Homo sapiens: one gene and its partners. The protein of the gene in region 3 purifies or fractionates together with the protein of the main gene of each other region. This does not show direct contact. Each region holds a gene or a part of one and is shown on either strand. Other genes may lie near its edges.

Evidence for each region. The genes of interacting proteins can lie anywhere in the genome.
Region 1: the proteins of KCTD3 (region 3) and TRAPPC9 purify together in Homo sapiens (affinity purification with mass spectrometry; 2 studies listed by BioGRID and IntAct, with this or other methods). This does not show direct contact.
Region 2: the proteins of KCTD3 (region 3) and CRTC3 purify together in Homo sapiens (affinity purification with mass spectrometry, with the first as the bait; one large-scale study listed by BioGRID). This does not show direct contact.
Region 4: the proteins of KCTD3 (region 3) and RAD23B purify together in Homo sapiens (affinity purification with mass spectrometry; 2 studies listed by BioGRID and IntAct, with this or other methods). This does not show direct contact.

What each region holds. Positions count from the first base shown.
Region 1 is NC_000008.11:140,451,245-140,455,769, forward strand, and holds part of TRAPPC9 (trafficking protein particle complex subunit 9), read right to left. Parts: intron 140-4,525; coding exon of another isoform or gene 130-139; coding exon 1-129. UniProt on the Homo sapiens protein: Functions as an activator of NF-kappa-B through increased phosphorylation of the IKK complex. May function in neuronal cells differentiation. May play a role in vesicular transport from endoplasmic reticulum to Golgi.
Region 2 is NC_000015.10:90,527,752-90,532,722, forward strand, and holds the start of CRTC3 (CREB-regulated transcription coactivator 3), read left to right. Parts: upstream 1-2,171; 5' UTR 2,172-2,320; coding exon 2,321-2,452; intron 2,453-4,971. UniProt on the Homo sapiens protein: Transcriptional coactivator for CREB1 which activates transcription through both consensus and variant cAMP response element (CRE) sites.
Region 3 is NC_000001.11:215,617,252-215,622,307, reverse strand, and holds the end of KCTD3 (BTB/POZ domain-containing protein KCTD3), read right to left. Parts: intron 3,423-5,056; coding exon 3,238-3,422; intron 3,156-3,237; coding exon 3,017-3,155; intron 2,252-3,016; coding exon 1,690-2,251; 3' UTR 501-1,689; downstream 1-500. UniProt on the Homo sapiens protein: Accessory subunit of potassium/sodium hyperpolarization-activated cyclic nucleotide-gated channel 3 (HCN3) up-regulating its cell-surface expression and current density without affecting its voltage dependence and kinetics.
Region 4 is NC_000009.12:107,320,254-107,324,778, reverse strand, and holds part of RAD23B (UV excision repair protein RAD23 homolog B), read right to left. Parts: intron 2,797-4,525; coding exon 2,661-2,796; intron 890-2,660; coding exon 762-889; intron 1-761. UniProt on the Homo sapiens protein: Multiubiquitin chain receptor involved in modulation of proteasomal degradation. Binds to polyubiquitin chains.

The DNA.
Region 1 (4,525 bases), on a different chromosome or scaffold from region 3:
CTGACTCACAGAGCAAATCCTCTTATAGATCCTGAAGAAGTTCTCCTCGGAGACGATGCCCACAGGCTGGACCACCACGAGCAGCGTCTGGTGGTCCTCAGCACACTGCATGTAGTCAGGGACGCTCATTTTGAAGTCCCTGTTCAGAGAGAAGAAATGAGGCTGTGAGACACAGAGTCCTGAGTGCTGAGAGCCTACCCTGGGAGGCAGTGACTGTGACCTTCACTACCCAGAGGCAGGGGAAGCCCCAAGGAAAGCCGTGGCATCAACAGGTCTTAGGGCTCTACACGTGGCTGTCGCAGCTCTGATCATAATGCTGTAACTGTTGACCTTCAGTCCCTTGGCCTCAGCATGGAGCTTCTACAGAAATGGGGCTGTTTCTTGTCTTTCTATTCTCACCACCTAACCAGGAGTAGTAAGAGTCAGTGCTCAAAAATGTCTGTTGAGTGAATGAATAAACACGTGTGTAATTGCTCCCCCATCCCCTCAACAGGATATTAAGAAAAATCCACCATGCAATCACATCTGGATTTGAATTCCGGGCTCCCTGGAACTCCTCAGCTACAAAATAGTGGTGATAATAGAACTTGTCTTGGCCGGGCATGGTGGCTCATGCCTGTAATCCTAACACTTTGGAAGGCCGAAGCTGGCGGATCACTTGAGGTCAGGAATTCGAGACCAGCCTGGCCAACATGGTGAAACCCCACCTATACTAAAAATACAAAAATTAGCCGGGTGTGGTGGCACGTGCCTGTAATCCCAGTTACCCAGGAGGCTGAGGCAGGAAAATCACTGGAACCCGGGAGGTGAAAGCTGCAGTGAGCCAAGATTGCGCCACTGCACTCCAGCCTGGGTGACAGAGTGAGACTCCGTCTCAAAAAAAAAAAAAAAAGAGGCGGGGCGCAGTGGCTCACACCTGTAATCCCAGCACTTTGGGAAGCTGAGGCAGGCAGATCACAAGGTCAGAAGATCGAGATCATCCTGGCTAACATGGTGAAACCCCATCTTTACTAAAAATACAAAAAATTAGCCCGGCGTGGTGGCAGGCACCTGTAGTCCCAGCTACTTGGGAGGCTGAGGCAGGAGAATGGCATGAACCAGGGAGGCAGAGCTTGCAGTGAGCCCAGATGGCGCCACTGCACTCCAGCCTGGGCGACAGAGCCAGACTGCATCTCAAAAAAAAAAAAAAAAAAAAAGAATTAAAAGAAAAAGAACTTGCCTTATAAAACTGTATCTAGATTGAGGAGGTTGCGAATGTAAAGGGCCTAGCATTGTGCCTAACATAAAAGGAGAGATTACACAAATATACCACCTTTCCTTTATAAATGGGAGAGTTGCCATAACCTCTCTGAGCCAATTTTGTCAGATATAAAAAGAAAACGTTATTACCTGATTCCCCAGAGCTGGGGAAAAATTAAATTAGATGACCCACGTGAAAGAATCTGGCTCATAGGAGATCCTCAATACATGTTTGTTGAAGGGATTAGTGAACAAACAAACAAATGAACAATCCAATGAATGCTGCCCCCAGCCTACAGACGGTCATGATGGAAATCCCACTGCCTGGAAGTCAGGGCCGATATTCAACTCCCAGCTCTACACGCACGATCTGGGTGACCTGGAGCAAGCCTGTGTGCTTCCCTGAACCCTAGTTTCATTGTGAATAAAAATGAGGATAGTAACACATACCTCAAGGTGTCAGCAAGTCAACATTCTGGTTGTGATAACATACTGTGGTTTTGTAACATGGCACCACGGGGGGAAACTGGGCAAAAGGTATATAGGATCCCTCAGTATTATTTCTGACAAATGCACATGGAGCTACAACTACTATAGTCTCAAATAAAAAGTCTAATTTTTTTAAAGGTTAGGGAGATTAAATGAGCTCTCTGTATCAAATAAGAAAAAGATGCCTCGATACACACCTCCACTGTCCCCATCAGTGGGCTGACACTTCCTGAGGGGATTTGGCCATGGTCCCCATGGCCAGAGGCAGCTGTACCATGAGCTAATGGGGTTCAGCTTCAGGCCCCTTCCATGGCCCTCTATCTAATTTTGCATTTTTAATTTTGTTTTCTTTTTCTTAAATAGGAAGCCCAAAACTGCATAACCTTCAGGTCACCAAAGCCTGACTGCAGAGATCGTGGCAGTAAAACCCTCCCAGGTGACACTAAGATTAAAGTGACATTGCTATAAGACCTCTGTGAAATTCTAATGGCAAGCTTCTCACCTGCACGGAGAGGAGGAGGACTGTGTGTCGGGGGCTATCCTGGACATCACAACCCCACCTCTACAGACTTCAAAAATACACATGGATAGAGAAGTATGAACAAAATTAAATTTTAAAAAAAGGAAACCCTAGCCTCCCAACATGTCTTGCTTCTGCCCAGGATCTAAACGGTTCACAAGTATATTACATGTGTGTGACTCAGCCCAAGTCCCTGACTCCAGTGCTCACGCTCTCAAGGACGACGCCCCACTCTCTCCTGCCCTTTCCCCACAACGATTCCCTAAAGAGTCTTTTCTGCACACAAAAACCACCTTCGAAAGAACCAAAATCACATCACCTTCCAACAAAGAGGCATAAAACCCCTCGGAGGACATATCAAAATACTGAGCGGGGGAGACTGGAGCGCTCATGTTTCTCAAAAGTAGGCACAGGTTTAACAGAAGCTGAGAAACACCGAAGCCTTCATTCTACAGAGGAGGAGAGCGCGGCCCACCGCAGGTAACAAAGGGCCTTATTTTAGAAGTATCATCTCGGCCAGACACGGTGGCTCACACCTGTAATCCCAACACTTTGGGAGACAGAGGCGGGAGGATCACTTGAGGTCAGCAGTTAGAGACCAGCCTGGTCAACATGACAAAACCCCATCTCTATTAAAAATACAAAAATTAGCCAGGAGTGGTAGCACACACCCGCAGTCCCAGCTACTCCAGAGGCTGAGGCAGGAGAATTGCTTGAACTCAGGAGGTGGAGGAGGCAGTGAGCCAAGATCACAACACTGCACTCCAGCCTGGGTAACAGAGCGAGACTCCATCTCAAAAAAATTAATAAATAAAAATGATTTAAAAATAAAAACTATCGTCTCATCTAAAAAGCAGCATAATCAGCCGGGTGTGGTGGCTCACACCTGTAATCCCAGCACTTTGGGAGGCGGAGGCAGGCAGATCACTTGAGGTCAGGAGTTGGAGACCAGCCTGACCAACATGGAGAAACCCGGTCTCTAATAAAAATACAAAAAATTAGCCAGGCGTGGTGGCGCATGCCTGTGATCCCAGCTACTCAGGAGGCTGAGGCAGGAGAATCGCTTGAACCCAGGAGATGGGGGTTGCAGTGAGCCGAGATCACGCCACTGCACTCCAGCCTGGGCAATAAGAGTAAGACTCCCTCTCAAAAAAAAAAAAAAAAAAAACACAACCTGACCTCACACCTGTGATCTCAACACTTTGGGAGGCCAAGTCGAGTGGATCGCCTGAGGTCAGGAGTTCGAGACCAGCCTGGCCAACATGGCAAAACCCTTTCTCTACTAAAAATACAAAAATTAGCCAGGCTTGGTGGCATGCACCTATAATTCCAGCTACTTGGGAGGCTGAGGCACGGGAATCGCTTGAACCCAGGGAGGAGGAGGTTACAGTGAACTGAGATCACACCACTGCACTCCAGCCTGGGTGACAAAGTAAGACTCTTTAAAAAAAAAAAAAAAAAGACACCTGCCACTGAGCCAGTTCTGGTATCTGAGACTAAGCTAATACAGGTATTAAAACAGCAAAAATATGTATCTTCAACTTGGTAGTTCCTCCATAGAGCTACTATAAAACCAGCAATCCAAGAGATCTGAAAACATGTGTCCACACCAGAAACATGTACAGGAATGTACATAGCAGTATTATTCCTCTTTTTCTGAGATGGAGTTTCGCTCTGTCACCCAGGCTGGAGTACAGTGGCAGGATTTCAGCTCACCTCAACCTCTGCCTCCCAGGTTCAAGCGATTCTCATGCCTCGGCCTCCCGGGTAGCTGGGACTACAGGCGTGAGCCACCATGCTCGGCTAATTTTTGTATTTTCCGTGGAGATAGGGTTTTGCCATGTTGTCCAGGCTGGTCTCGAACTCATGATCTCAGGTGATCCACCCGCCTCAGCCTCCCAAAGTGCTGGGATTACAGGCACAACATTATTCTTGTTTTTTGTTTGTTTGTTGTTTTGAGATGGAGTCTCACTCTGTCGCCAGGCTGGAAAGCAGTGGCGCGATCTCGGCTCACTGCAAACTCCGCCTCCCAGGTTCAAGGGATTCTACTGCCTCAGCCTCCCAAGTAGCTGGGACTACAGGCGCCCACCACCATGCCCAGCTAATTTTTGTATTTTTAGTAGAGAGGGGGTTTCACCATGTTGGCCGGGATGGTCTCGATCTCTTGACCTCGTGATCTGCCCGCCTCGGCCTCCCAAAGTGCTGGGATTACAGGCGTGAGCCACCATGCCTGGCCAGGCACAGCATTATTCTTAATAGCTAAGGAGTGAAAACAAC
Region 2 (4,971 bases), on a different chromosome or scaffold from region 3:
AATGTAAAGAAAAATGCTAGGCGCGGTGGCTCACGCCTGCAATCCCAGCATTTTGGGAAGCCGAGACAGGTGGATCACCTGTGATCAGCAGTTTGAGACCAGCCTGACCAACATGGTGAAACCTCGTCTCTACAAAAAATACAAAAAATTAGCCTGCGTGGTGGCGTGTACCTGTAATCCCAGCTACTCAGGAGGCTGAGGCAGGAGAATAGCTTGAACCCAGGAGGCAGAGATTGCAGTGAGCCGAGATTGCACCACTGCACTCCAGCCTGGGCGACAGAGCGCGACTCTGTCTTAAAAAAAAAAAAAAAAACTAGCCGGGCATGGTGGCGCAAGCCTGTAATCCCAGTTACTCGGGAGGCTGAGGCACAAGAATCACTTGAACTCAAGAGGCAGAGTTTGCAGTGAGCTGAGATCAGGCCACTGCACTCCAGCCTGGGTAACAGAGCAAGACTCCGTCTCAAAAACAAACCAACAACAAAAAAAAAGCATGGTAAATAACACAAAATACAACAGAAAAAAAAATCCAATTATAATTAATAAAAATAGCTAAATTCTAGCTAACAGAGATATATTTTCAGAATACATTTTCTAAAAAGTCCAGTTATAGGCTATGTCTGAGAGACAGGTGAAAAACATAATGGAATATTATCATATAAATGAATTGACACAAATATATCTCGAAAACATAATGGAGAATGAAAAAAGATGCAAAATGATTATTCAGTATGGTGTCATTTTTGTAAAGTTTAAAAACAAAATTAGGTATTCCATATAGCATTGCTGGATCTCTACATCATATGTAATAAAAGTATAAAAACACAAACTGGAATGATATGTACCAACTTGAGCACGGTGACTATCTGTGGGGCGGAAGAAGAAATGAGAGTGGGGCCGTCGTTATGACTAATTTTGTATGTCTTTAATAAATCCCAAGTACATGCAGCAAAATGTATTGATGTCTGTTTAATCTTGATAGTGGGGGGCGTGGGTAGTATTAATATTATTTTCCGTACTCTTCCGTAGGCCTCTAATATTTCCCTCTTTACAGAACACTGACACACGCTCAGGGCTCCCCGGGACATCTTTGTGCACATCAACATTTATGCTGAGAGTAGCTTCTGGACTCCAAAGAGGAAACTCCCCGGGCACTGTGGCCCACGCCTGTTATCCCAGCACTTTGGGAGGCTGAGGTGGGCAGATCGCTTGAGCCCAGGCGTTCGAGACCAGCCTGGGCAAAATAGCGAGACCCACCCCCGCCCCCCATTGCTACAAAAACATTTACAAACTAGCCGGGCGTGGTGACCCCCGCCTGTGGTCCCAGCTGGTCGGGAGGCTGAGGTGGGAGGATCTTTTGAGCCCGGGAGGTCAAGGCCGCGGTGAGTCGAGATCGCACCACTACACTCCAGACCGGGCGACAGAGAAAGACATCCATTCACTCCCCCAAAAGAAGGGGAAATTCGCTGAGGCTGAGCGCTGGTTTCCCAAGGTGGGGCTGGCACCTGCTGAAGCTGCCACAGGAGTGGAGAGGCCGTAGGGAGACTTGGAAAGAACCTGGAAAGGGGGCCGGGGCTATGGAGCCAAGGCTGCAGCAGGGCTGGATGGTGTTTGTAGTTTGTGCAGAATAGGAGGCAGTTTTTAAAGCCGAGATACAGCTCTGGTTGACTGGAGCGGGGAGGGGTGGGTGTGAGAGGTCAGGAAACCAGCGGCTGGAGGCCGGGGGCCTGGAGCGGCAGGGCTGGCGGGCAGACGTTAGGCCCCAGGCAAAATGGGCGCACCCCCTGCGGGGGCCCGAGGTGACCTGCTCGAGGTCCGGTCGCCCAGGTTCCACCTGGAGAAGAAAATCTTCGTAATTTGGCTGGGGGAGGGGGGATGCGGGCACAGGCTGTGTTCTCCACGTCGCGTAGACGCAGAGGCCATCCCTGGGTCGGAGAGTCTCCGTGGAGTGGCACCCCAGCGTTCCCCGTACGCCGGGGCCACTTTGTCGGGCTGACGGGGGTCCCTCCAGGTGGCCGCCGGCGGCGGGTCCCGAGCCAGACCGGGAAGCGGGGAGCAGCCCTCAGCCCGCGAGCGTGGGGCCGGGGCAGACTGGAGGCCGGGCGGGCCCCGCCGAGGGTGGGGCGGGGCCGGGCGCACGGGGGCGGACCTCGGCGCGCTCCCGGCCGCTCGCTGGCTCCGGGGCCGCGGCGGCTCCTCTGCCGGGTCGCGCCGGACGACTGGCTTCGGGCGGCGGCCCCGGCGGCCTGTGGACGGACGGGTGGGCCGAGGTACAGGCCCCACGGCCGCCGTCTCCCGCTTCTGCCCGCGCAGAGTCCGCGCCATGGCCGCCTCGCCGGGCTCGGGCAGCGCCAACCCGCGGAAGTTCAGTGAGAAGATCGCGCTGCACACGCAGAGACAGGCCGAGGAGACGCGGGCCTTCGAGCAGCTCATGACCGACCTCACCCTGTCGCGGGTGAGGGCCCGGGCCGGCGCGGGCGGGGGCGGCCACGGCCGCGGGCGGGACCCGCGCGGCGGGTGAGAGGTTGCGGGGCCAAGGCGATGGCGGGGCCGGGCGGGGGCCGCGCCCGGGAACCGGCGGCTGGGAGGGGGACCGGAGCGGCCGCGGCCTCGGCGTTTCCCCGCCTGGCGACACCCGCTAGCCGTTCGCGATCCCGGGCTGAGGTGGGAGGGTCGCCCGGCCCCGTGTGCGGGAAGATGGGCAGGGGTGAAGCCCGTGGAGGCGGGCGGCCGTGCGAGGGCGGCCTGAGGGGGAGGAGGACGAGGAGCCCCGAGAGGAAATCGCAAACAGCTCGGAGGCCGGCCGGGTGGCGCGGCGCGGCTTCTGGTCGCTCCGAACATCCCCCACCATCGAGCCCTGCTGTTCTGCCGGCGTGGAAGGCCGCGGGCACCCCAGGGTCCCACGCGCTCGTGGGGGGAGCTCTGTGCACAAGTCCATCCAGGGCCCGGCCCTGGGGTGGCTCGGGTTGTTGGAACCACGACGGGATTCCGTGTCGAGTGTGAGGCTCTGCTCCTTTTACTCCTTGGAGGTGCTTTATCGGGTCCAGTTTACTTTGTTCGGCCCGGGATATTTAGTGAGAACTGACAAGCGTCGCTGGTGACTGGAGAGGGACCTGGAGGAATGAGTAAGGCGCGAGCCGGGACAAACACCTGGAGAGGTTAGGTAACCGCTGAGTGAGGCAGTGGAGGATGGAGAGCCAACCGGAGTGTCCGCGCAGGGTTGCAGAGAAGGGGGGTCAGCAGGAGTGGGGCTGGCCTTGAGGATCCTGAATGCTGACCTTGGAGGACCATCGGGAGGATGGGGGAGGATCTGCAGATTCTGGGGGACTGAGGCGGGGGAGACAGTTTGAAGGAGAGCTGAGAGCAGAGTTGCAAACCAGCTGAGTTGCAGACACATTATTTTTTGGCCAGCGCAGTGTTTGGGAAAAATTATTGAATCTGTTGCCAGAATTTTTAAATTGGAAGACTTCCACACAAAATCCAAATTTCCGTATTATTTATTTATTATTATTTATATATGTTAAAAATTGGGAGACCTGGTAACACTAATTCTGAATTCCTACATGACAGCTACCGACCTGCTGGAGCTGGGTGATGATGAAAGGGAGCTGAGCTGAGCTCCCTTTCAAATGGAGTAAGAACTCTAGTTTGCCACCGTCCACTCTCTGTCACAGTCCCCCAAGGGGAGATTAGGTGACAGTTGCCATTTATACTCATGATGGTGTTTTCTTTCAGTGAAGTTAAGGAAAAAGTGAAATATTTCCTGTACTTACATTTCTGTTCACATTGAGAAAAAATATATATATAGAGAGAAAGAAGCTGAAGATTTCAAGAAAATGTTTTCTTATACCCTATCAGCTTCACTCATTTTTTACCTGCCTGGCATCCACTGGCATTTACATCTGTGACCTTGGTTAGATTCAGAGATGAACTCGATAAGCTCAGAGCACGTTGAAAAGAATGGGTGGGTGAAAGCTGAGGATTAGTGTTGGGGCCTGTGTTGTTATGTGTTTTTAAATACATACTGTACATTGTTTATGTACAAATACATGCACTGTATATGTCTGTATACCTATGGCGGATCCAATCTTTCACCCAATTCATGAATCTTCTTTAAAATATCCCTGACAGGTGAGGCCATGAGTAATGTACAGACTCTCTTTTAAAAGCAAAAATTTTTCACAGATCCTCACTGTTTACTTACTTTCAAGTAAAAAAAAAGTGTTTACTTACTTTAGAGACCCTGCTATAGCTCAGGGTCTCTTGAATTTAGCAAGCCTAATCAACTGTGGCCCATATGATAATTCAGTCACCACTTTATTCTAATTACTACAAAATTATGGTGTCATTTTGCCCTTCACCTGGTACAGGGAATCATTTACATATTAATTCTGCCCGTGTTTTCTTCTTGGCCAGTTACCAGTAAAGTAACACTGCTTGGCTCCACCGTGTTCATAAACACATCTGTAAATGATAACACTGAATTTGGCTACTAATGTTTGCTTATTTAAAAATCTTAAGGGTTATTTTCATGAAGAAATCACAAAATTAGAACACTTCTCATAGAGAACTCTTAGATTCCCAGCATGTCTATGAAGAATGCGTCTCTAAGGATCCAAAGATCCCAGTTGGAGGAGTATCTGCCTAGTTCATAATTGGTAACTGGGTGGCAGATATACTGACTTTTCATTACTAGCCCATGACAGACATGCTAATTCCTGACTTTTCATTACTAGCCCATGACAGACATGCTAATCGATAGGGCAGACATTACTGATCTATCTAGATGCTCTTTCCCCTCTGAGCCTGTGTTGGGATTCAAGTTCTTCTCTACATGATCAAAGCAATCCTTCAGAGTTGGCCTTACTTACCTATTCACCTAGGCGTTACTTATCCTATTCACCTAGTGGGTAGGATAGACTAGACTGTAGAGGATTTTCTCTAGCTTTAGAAGTCCGGCATTATCAGGAAGCA
Region 3 (5,056 bases):
GTAGGTATAATGAAAAAATTAAGGCATAATGGGGGCAATCTGAGAAATTAGTGTCAGAGTAGACAGACATAAACCACTGCATCAAGGTTCAATCTCCTGTAAGCAAAAGAAAGAAACGATTTGACTTGTACTGTAATGCAATCTAGTATAGTCAGTTTCCTTTTTATGCGATTCTATTACATAATAGTTACTATCTTCTTTTTAATGGCCTTTTATTCCTGGTCACTAGAGTCTAGTTTTTTCTTTCATTTTCTTACTTGCCCACCCAACTTTCACATAACTGTCATAAAGAGGAAGAAGGGTGTAAGATAATTACAATCTTAGTAATTTTGAAATTATGCTTTGCCTAATATTTTCTTTCATTGATAATAACTTATTTTCCACATATATTAAGTTCTCCCTCCCCCCATTTTTTTTAAATTATGGGAAGAAGCAAAGAAATGAACAAACATATATAGCACACTTTAAACAGAACTGTTACTTAAATAACTGAAAACGCATTGACATAATCATTTTTATTTGATTTAATTGATAAATAAATACAAGAGAACTGTTGTGAAACCACTGGCAATATAGTAAATTTTAAAGATTTTATTTCAACTTCACTCACTTATATTTCTTGGAATGGGGATATATACATTATTCACCAATAAATGCTAATGCTTTAAATTTACAATTACCCTATTTGTAGAAACCTGAAGATCATTCCAATTAAATGAAAAAAAATTGTACAAAAACGTTCTTTTGCTCTTACAATTCAAAATACATTCAAATTCACATTCTTACAGCAGCCAAAACCTTTAACCCAAAATTCAGAACTGCAGTCCTACAAGTGAACAAACTAGTGTTTTAATTTAATTATCATGATTGTTGTTAACACTGAAAAAAAAACATGGTGGCTCCTGAAACAAGACAGGTTAGCAACTGGTACAGCTTTCCCTTCTGGGCACTCAAAGCTTTGCCCTTGATTATTATTTTTATTTCATCTTTTCAAACACAGACAATTGCTCCAACTTGAAAGTTTCAATGGAATTTTGGCATTTAATATTGCTAATGCTTGCTAAGATTTAAGATCTCCCAATGATGAGAATCAGAAAATGACGCACGACTAAATTAAAATCATCCTAAAAGACTTACTACATAGTGGTATCTGGTATTCAATATCAATAGTGTTTTTGAATTACATGATATGTTTTTCACAAACATAGCACCTCATCAAATATCTGGTAAACACTTTGCAATCACAATAAGTGTTGGGAGACCAAGTTCCAAAGACAATTATGTGATTCACTTAAAGGTAACATTGTAAGACAAGTCTCAGGCATAATGAAGATTAGGAATGCAGTCTGCTGGTTCCCATGATCTAAAGGGATGCTCACCTATATGGGCACCATCCTATTAAGACGTGGTAATATGTTTCCAAACCAAAAAAAGTCGGTAAGTGTTAAAATGGACTCCTGCTTTATAAATGATCTGTTAAATGTACTTGTAAAATTAAAAAAATTTCCAAAATGTCAAAAGAGATATGATTATTGTATCTCATTATTCCAAGTAATTCTGTTAAAAAGATACTAAATGAAGTCCAATTTTATCTTGTAAAGTTTTAGTGTAAAAACTAATGTACTGAAATTCAGTAAAGTTTAACTTTCATCTAAATGTAACGAAACAACTATTCATTTTGGTGAGTTTTCACAAGCTGTACTCCTGACCTGAAGAATCACTTTTTTTATGCCGAGGAGATGGAGTAGTCTTTGTAGGAGATGGGGACGCAGTACCAGGTGAGTCAGTTCCTCCATCGGAAGTACTTGGTGATGACGCCAGATAGGGAACTTTCTTTCTTCCAAGGAATCCTCCCCCTTCAAATCCTCCTTTCTTCCTAAACTCTATTTTATTTTCATTTTCATCTTCTGATGACCTTTTCTTGGATTCTGAAAAACCTTCAGCTATTTTATGCACTTCCAATCCACTATCCAATTCTCTCAAACTTTTTATTTCTACTCCAGGAGACTTTCTCTCAGATATATTACATTCCCCTGTTGCCCCTTTCACTTCAGCTTGTATTGGACCCAAGTTACCATTTTCAGGGACAGCTCTTTCTACATTTCTGTTCAAATTAATAGTCTGGAAGTCCCTATAACTGTGAAAGCTCTCAGTCCTTCTTGCCCTTGCTAATAAAGGACTTTCTCTGTAAGGCCTCATGGAACCGTAAGTAGCTGCTTCATGGGTGGTATCATGGTGCTGAAGCTGAAGGCTGAAATACAGTTTTTAAAAATGACAGTTCAGATTTCACTCTGTGATTTCTCAGGAACATATTAATTATACAACCAATAAAACACACTATATAAATACATAAAGTGTATTATATCCATATTTCTCTTTGTAAAAATATACTTATCAAGTACTCTTTATTATATAGATGGTATATAAAATTACCAATGCAAATAATACCATCATATATTCACAGACATGCTGAATTTTTGAACAGCTAAAAAAAAGATGGGAGGAAAAATCCTTGAAACCAATGTGAAACCATCATAATTCAGTATTTAGCCCTTGGTTCTTCAGACTTTGGAATTTATCAATATGATAACTAAAAAGACATTATGGAACTTTGTATTAAAATTACATAATGCTTAAATGTAAGACTAGACAACATAATAGAACCACAGATAAATATTGTCCCTGAGACAGGACAATAATTAAAGCTTCACATACTAACCAAGGTGACATGTAATTTTCCTAATTTCCTTTGAATAAATTCTTGATCACATAATAGGCTTCCAATTGGGCAGCAATTCACAAAATAAGTTAAAAGGTAAAAATGTTTTTCTATGAAAAGAACCAGATATGCCTATCAAGAAATTTGGTAAAACTGTTAAAAAGTTAACATAATGTCTGAATTTAAAATGTACCTTGAGAAGTATGGCTTTCTAGAACAACTATGTGATTACAATATTTCAGTCAATTTCCCCAAAAGAAATAAATTTTGTTTATAATACCCAACTCTTTAACCTACCTAGAATTTGATTCTCGTAAGTGGCTATGCTGAACTACGGAAGTTGCTGGACTGATGTTAGGAGTAGCACAGCGAGATGTGCTCAAATCACATTGATCGAGTAATTTGAGTAGCTCTTCTTCGGTTGGACCACCTACATCTTAGGAGAACAAATAGTCATTAAAATCACTTAAGTGAAAAGCTTAACCTTGTGACAAACATCTTTCTGTATGAGAACCTACCCTTATCTTCACTTTTGTTAACCATATCCATAGCAGTGGTCAGATCCCACATTTGAATACTGCCATTTGTATGGCCTGTGAACAAGTAGCGCCTTGGTCTTGAGCCCATCCTACTGGATCCCTCACATTCCCTCACTGTAAATGAGGATATTGTAGTACAGTCAACAGCCTGGATCTCACATATTCTGCAAAAGAAAAGCAGAAAGAGCCCTGATGGGAATGAGCAATTATTTAAAAAGAAGCTATGAAACTAAAAAGACAGAAAGAAAGAAAGCAAACATGTTATACTAGAAAAGACTTTTAAAAAATCATTTAAAATTTATGTGTAAATCTTTAAAATCTGAAACCAGAAAAAATATACAGCTCTATGGAGATGGCCCATATTGTATCCATCATTAGGATAATACTCAACTTCAAAAAAAGATTTTTATGACTTTTTAGTTGATTTTCATAAAAGATAAAAGAACCTGAGAGAGAACAATTTTTATCCACATTGACGGATCAGGAAACAATGGGATAACATCAGCAAATGATTGTTCCAAAGTCACGTAAGGGCTAACTGAATTGTACTTGACTGAATTAGTTATCCCAGCCTACTTCAAAAGAGTTGAGGGAGTTTATTAAAAAAGAAAAATCAGTATAGGCAAACGCAAGGTCAAAAAAATAGACAAAAAAAAATACAATCCACATGAATTTGAGAAGCATACAGGAATAGAATATGAAGCTTAGATGAGCTTCCTAGTAGGCCGGACAAAAAGGAGGGAAAAAGATAATTCCTACATGCCCACATGTAGTGATAAAGACTATCCTAGTCTCATTCTTGAGCTCAAGGTTTGTGAATACAGGAATAAACAAACCAAAGTATTTTTCCTGTACTCTCATGCAACAATCAACTCTAAGGAAAGTGAAAGTTTACCTCCAAATGCCCTTTTAGTTATGTGGGCTCTTGGCTGGATCTAGAAACCAAACTGACACCACACAGACTGACAAGAGAGAAGCATATACATTTTATTAGTTTTACATGTACATGGGAATCTTCACAAGAGAGTGAGGTCCAAAGAAGTGGCCACAGCAAGATGCTTTTATACAATTCAGACAAAGAATGATAAACTGTAGAACAAATGACAGGATAAAGAAAATCTGACTAGAGGCAGTAAATTTCTAAGGGAGTCACTAGAAGATATACATATATATTATATATATTTAATATATATTACGTATATACTAAATATATGTAATATATATTTAATATATATTAAATATGTATTATATATATACATTATATATATATATAGTGGGACAATGTAAAACTAGTGGAAGGTAAGCATATTCACTCAGGTCCACTGCAGCCCCCAGTTCCCACTCTCCTGTCCTGGTACAGGGAGGATAAAACTCCGAGAAAATCTTTTGGCTTGCTGCATGTAGGAAGAGAGAGGTCAGCTATCCCCTTCTGAAATGACAATTTCTCTAATGTTTTCACCTCAAAATAATCAATATACCAATTTGGCCTATTTTGGGGCAGAATGTCCTTCACTCCTTGGCAAAAAAAAGGGTTCTGTGACCAAATGGGGTGGAGGGGTTCACCAAACACCAAGCAAGCAGTCGATTCTGCAGCAGACACCAGCTAAGTGTCCTCTAACTCAATTTAATTCTGACACTATCTGTCATATCACACGGGTAGAAGACTCGGTCTCACAAAGCTGAGCCCCACTTCAGAGGCTGATCACAAGCCTCAGGTTATTTTGCCTGTGCTTCTAACTGACTGACTGTAAATCAGGGTTCCCACAGCCTCCTCCTTAGGTTCAACTAATTTGCTAGA
Region 4 (4,525 bases), on a different chromosome or scaffold from region 3:
GAACAGAGAAATTCTAAATATTACTAAGAGAAAAGGCTACACTTTTGCAAACGTAATTTAGTGATTCTGGATTATTCAGTCTTTGGAAGGATGTGATTTCTTATACAATAGTAAAGAAATTCAGTACTTTTGGGCAAAGTAAACAGTGAAGAAATTCAAATTCTTAAGTGCTCTGAGCCTCCTGTGCTTAAAAAAACAAAACAAACAAAAAACAAACAAAAAAAACTACTGTGGGACTATAAGAATAGAACTTATTCTTAATACTTGCATGTATTTTTTACCTTCCACACTAGTGGGCATTAAAATGCTGTATAAAATTCAAATACTTGGTGATCTGATCACTAAAGAAGCCCCACAGCTATTTTTTCTAAGAGTAAGTTGTTCCTGTTGCTTAAAAGTTCCTAAGAAAAAGGAACTGAGTAATAAGCTTGTGAAAAGTGATTTAAAGTTAGGCAGTTTCTCTGTTAAACAGCTTCCCAAATTCTTTAACATATTAATGTGTAGTGGGAATCTCCAAAAAGGAAATATAAAATGTTTCCCAAACTTACTACTATTTGGTCAACTTAATTTAACCCAACCTCCATATCCCAACTGTTTTTTTAGTACACCTATCTAGATTACAATATCTAAGTGTAGCTTGGAAGAAAACATTCACATTCTCAAATACAGAGTTGTATTTGAGGAGGGGAAGGACCGTTCATGGACTTTTTCAAATTGTGACACACTCTAAATCACTTGTGAAACTGACACTGATTAGTCACCTGAAGTAATTGAGGATTCTCTCGACCTATCTGCTGTAGTAACGCTGGAAGCAAGGAAGGATTCTGCTGAATAATTTGTCTCATCTGTTGAAACTGAGGCTGATTCCGTAAAAATTCAAGGGGATGTCCTAAAATACACATAAACATTTCTAAACAAAAGCAGTAAATACATACACAAACAGTGGTTAAATAATACATTTAGACAGCAAACACTATCAAAGAAAAAATGATTTGAGTTCTCAGATGTAATAAAATGAAGTAAATAATGATGAAATCTTCCAACTGTACCAACTTGCAAGTTTTATACGGCAAAAATTACTCCTATTAGCAAAGGCAGGGAGTGCAGAACGCTGACTGTAATATGAACCAAACTTTCCTATAATTGCCCTTGGCACTCAACGTTATAAAATAATACTAGAAACTTGTCTCCTGTGTGTGTTCTATCAAAATAAAAAGTACTAAAAGTTGTTCCTGTTGCTTAAAAGTTCCTAAGAAAAATATACACCACAACAAAAACAAAAACTCACTTACTTTATAAACAATGAAAACCCCTAAAAGAACACAATCTGAGCTTGAATTCCTAGGAATTCAAGAAACCAAAGAAGAAAAAGATATTTAAAGTCTGAGGTCAGGTTTTGCAAATCAGGAGAAACTTTAATCCAAACTTACATTAAGGAAGACTTCCGGTTATTACCATTAATTTTCAAACATTTGTGAACTACAAAAACTCGGATAAATAAGCTGTATGGCAATCTAGTACTAATATATCTAAACTCTTCAGTCTAAAATCCATTCACAATAATAAATGTTAATAATGCCAAATAAAATATAAAATACAGAACTTCTGGCTTTTTCAGGGTGCTGGTACTTGTCTGGTTATGCTATAGGAAACCAAAAATCGTACATACAGGAATTGTTTTTGAGGTTACTAATGAATAAAAGAGAATTTTTAGATGTATGTTGTAATTTCCTATTCAGGAAGACAATCATTCCAATTGAAATGACCACAGCACATGGGTTTTTTGTTCTTCCATATATAATACCAGCTTTACAGGTGAAGGCAACGAGACTTAGAGACTATGTCACCTAATAAGTGCTGAAAGGAACAGGACCCCAAATCCAAAGCAGAGCTGTGGTCATCTCTTTCCACTCCCATATGCTGAATCACAACAAACAAAGGGCCTGTCCTTGGGAGACTGTACACAAAGCACTGAGTGACCTTTGTCAACCAGAGGTGACTATCATTATCAGAGCTAGGAAATGCATGGAAGAATGGCCTTTTCAAGATCAACAGTTTAAATTACTTTATTAATATACAGAAGAACGAACGAAGGAGAACACTGCGTAATTCCTAAGCTGACCGCAGGTTCCAGGCTTTGCTCTGTAGTCAGACCTATAGCAATGTGTGGGGTATGGTCAGCACCCCAGTAAAGAGACTTCAATTCAAGCTTTGCTTTCTCCTCTAGATACAAGGTTTTAAACCTCTCACGGTTTCATTTCCTTGGCTGTATAATTACTAAAATCCTGCTGGCTTTGAAATTACATACACTTTGTAACATTTATGGAGAGAGTAAGAGACAAAGTGAGCAAACCATTCTGAATGGCATCAGAAAGTAACACTAAATACAAACTGGAAAGCATCTTTTCCTTAAAACAAATAAAACAGAATATGCCCTTCGGCAAAACTGCAACACTGATGTTTAATATCAGCAAGGATACCTTTTACATCCACTTGGGAAAGTTTCTTTTGGGCCTTTCTCAAACATTAGTGAAGAGAGAACTTAACGAATTATTCGACTGCTCTGGGAATGAACGTCATTTCTGAAGTATTTCAGGTTAAATTATTTTACACTAAAAATTCAGGGCCATTCCCTCCCCATCCAGAAGATTCCGCTTTACCTCCAGAACTTGTTGTTGTAGTTGTTGCTGTCGTAGTTGCTGCAGCTGCAGCCACTGCTGAAGACTGAGGAGCCCCAGTACTAGCTGCTTGAGGGGGGTCAACCACAGCCTGACTTTCTCTATCTCCAGGGATTCCCTGTAATAGAATTTCCAAGCTTTAAGATATCCCATCATGCAAAATTAAATATTATACAGAGTAAAAGATTTATAGTCTATTTAACATCTTGTTTGATTTTCAAAAGCATCAAACAGATGTCTGCTTCAATTAAAAGTAAAGGATTATTAAGCTGCATGGATTCAAATTAGATTAGAAATGACCTGGGTGCATTATAGAAAAACCCACATTGCTATAATAATGCAAAGCAGCACTGTCCAACAGAACTTACCATGATGATGGAAATATTCTCTGTGTTGTTCAATAAGACACCTACCAGGCACACGTAATTAGCATCAAATTTGAAAAATATTGATACATGTACCTTCTTAAAACTGAACACAACCAAAGGTTTTTGTGCTACCTATTAGTTCAGTTGACTTTTTAACTTCTTAGAAATCTTTATCAGCTGTTACTCAGTGATAAAAAGGATTGAGTTTGCAACTCTAGCTTAAGATAATCCAAAAAGAGGTTTTGATGCACACTTGACAGTTCTGAAATGACTCCTGGGGGAAAAAATATCTAATGGATACAGACCAGGTACACAGTGGCCAGGCAGGAGGATCTCCCCTACTGATCCATGGTACTGAGAAAGTGTCACTCAGAAAGTATCTCATAAATTTGAGGTACTTTTCAGTGAAGTGTTTCTTAAAGTGTCAAAGTATCTCATAAATGAGATACTTAAAGTATCTCATAAATGAGATACTTAAAGTATCTCAAAAAATGAGATAAAGTATCTCAAAAAATTTAATTTTTCAAAATTCATAAAATCGATATAAAAGAAATTGAAACCATTTAGTTTTTAGGTGATGCCTTTTGTAAGTTTATAGTACTTATCTTTTAAAGTTATTAAGAGCTTAAAACTGCATGCACTAAACTCTTTTGGGACACCTATTTTGATGCACATGATTGATAGACTTGTCATTTAAAATTTTTAAAAAGTCTTTATCAAGTTCTTATAGATTTTGAAGAGAATAAAGAACCAAGTATTACAATTGAATAAGATGATAAATGCTTCCATTCCCTAATAAACCAGAAGCCAAAAGCAACAACATATAAAGGATGAAGAGTAACACAGCAGGAAAATGGCTGCATGGATTAGATGTCACTCCAGGCATTAAAACCAATGTTTTTGAATGAGTTAACCAACGCAAACCCTTAACTCAGATGGGCAGTTATTTAAGTGCTAACAAACTACATACAAATTTAGGATCCAGGGCGTCCATCAAATTCTCTTTTATTAAACTAAAAAGTTCATCTTTATTGCTATAGATCGACCTCTATTCTCACACATTACATAGCCTCTTATATAAATGCTCAACATTTCTTCTTTCCATCCGTTCACCTTAACCTATCTCTTAACTAGTAACAGTTAAAAGCAACTTTTCCCCTTCAGTCTATGAAACAAAGAGCAAATATATAAAAAACATTTTAGTTATAAATTGTTTTTGATGAACTCATGTATCATCTATTTATTTGCATTTGATGCTCTACAGCAGTTTTAGCATTTGGTAACAATGATTCTGTATTTTTATACCTCAAAACTCCACATCTATTAGATCAAAATAACTGATACTGTTGAACTTATACAGAATTCTAAATCAGGTGTAAATGAAAGCCACTCCATAAAAGCTAATACTTTTATACAATCTGTTTAGGGTACACACTCCTCACCAAACAAATTCACAACAATTATTAATTCCACAATTCC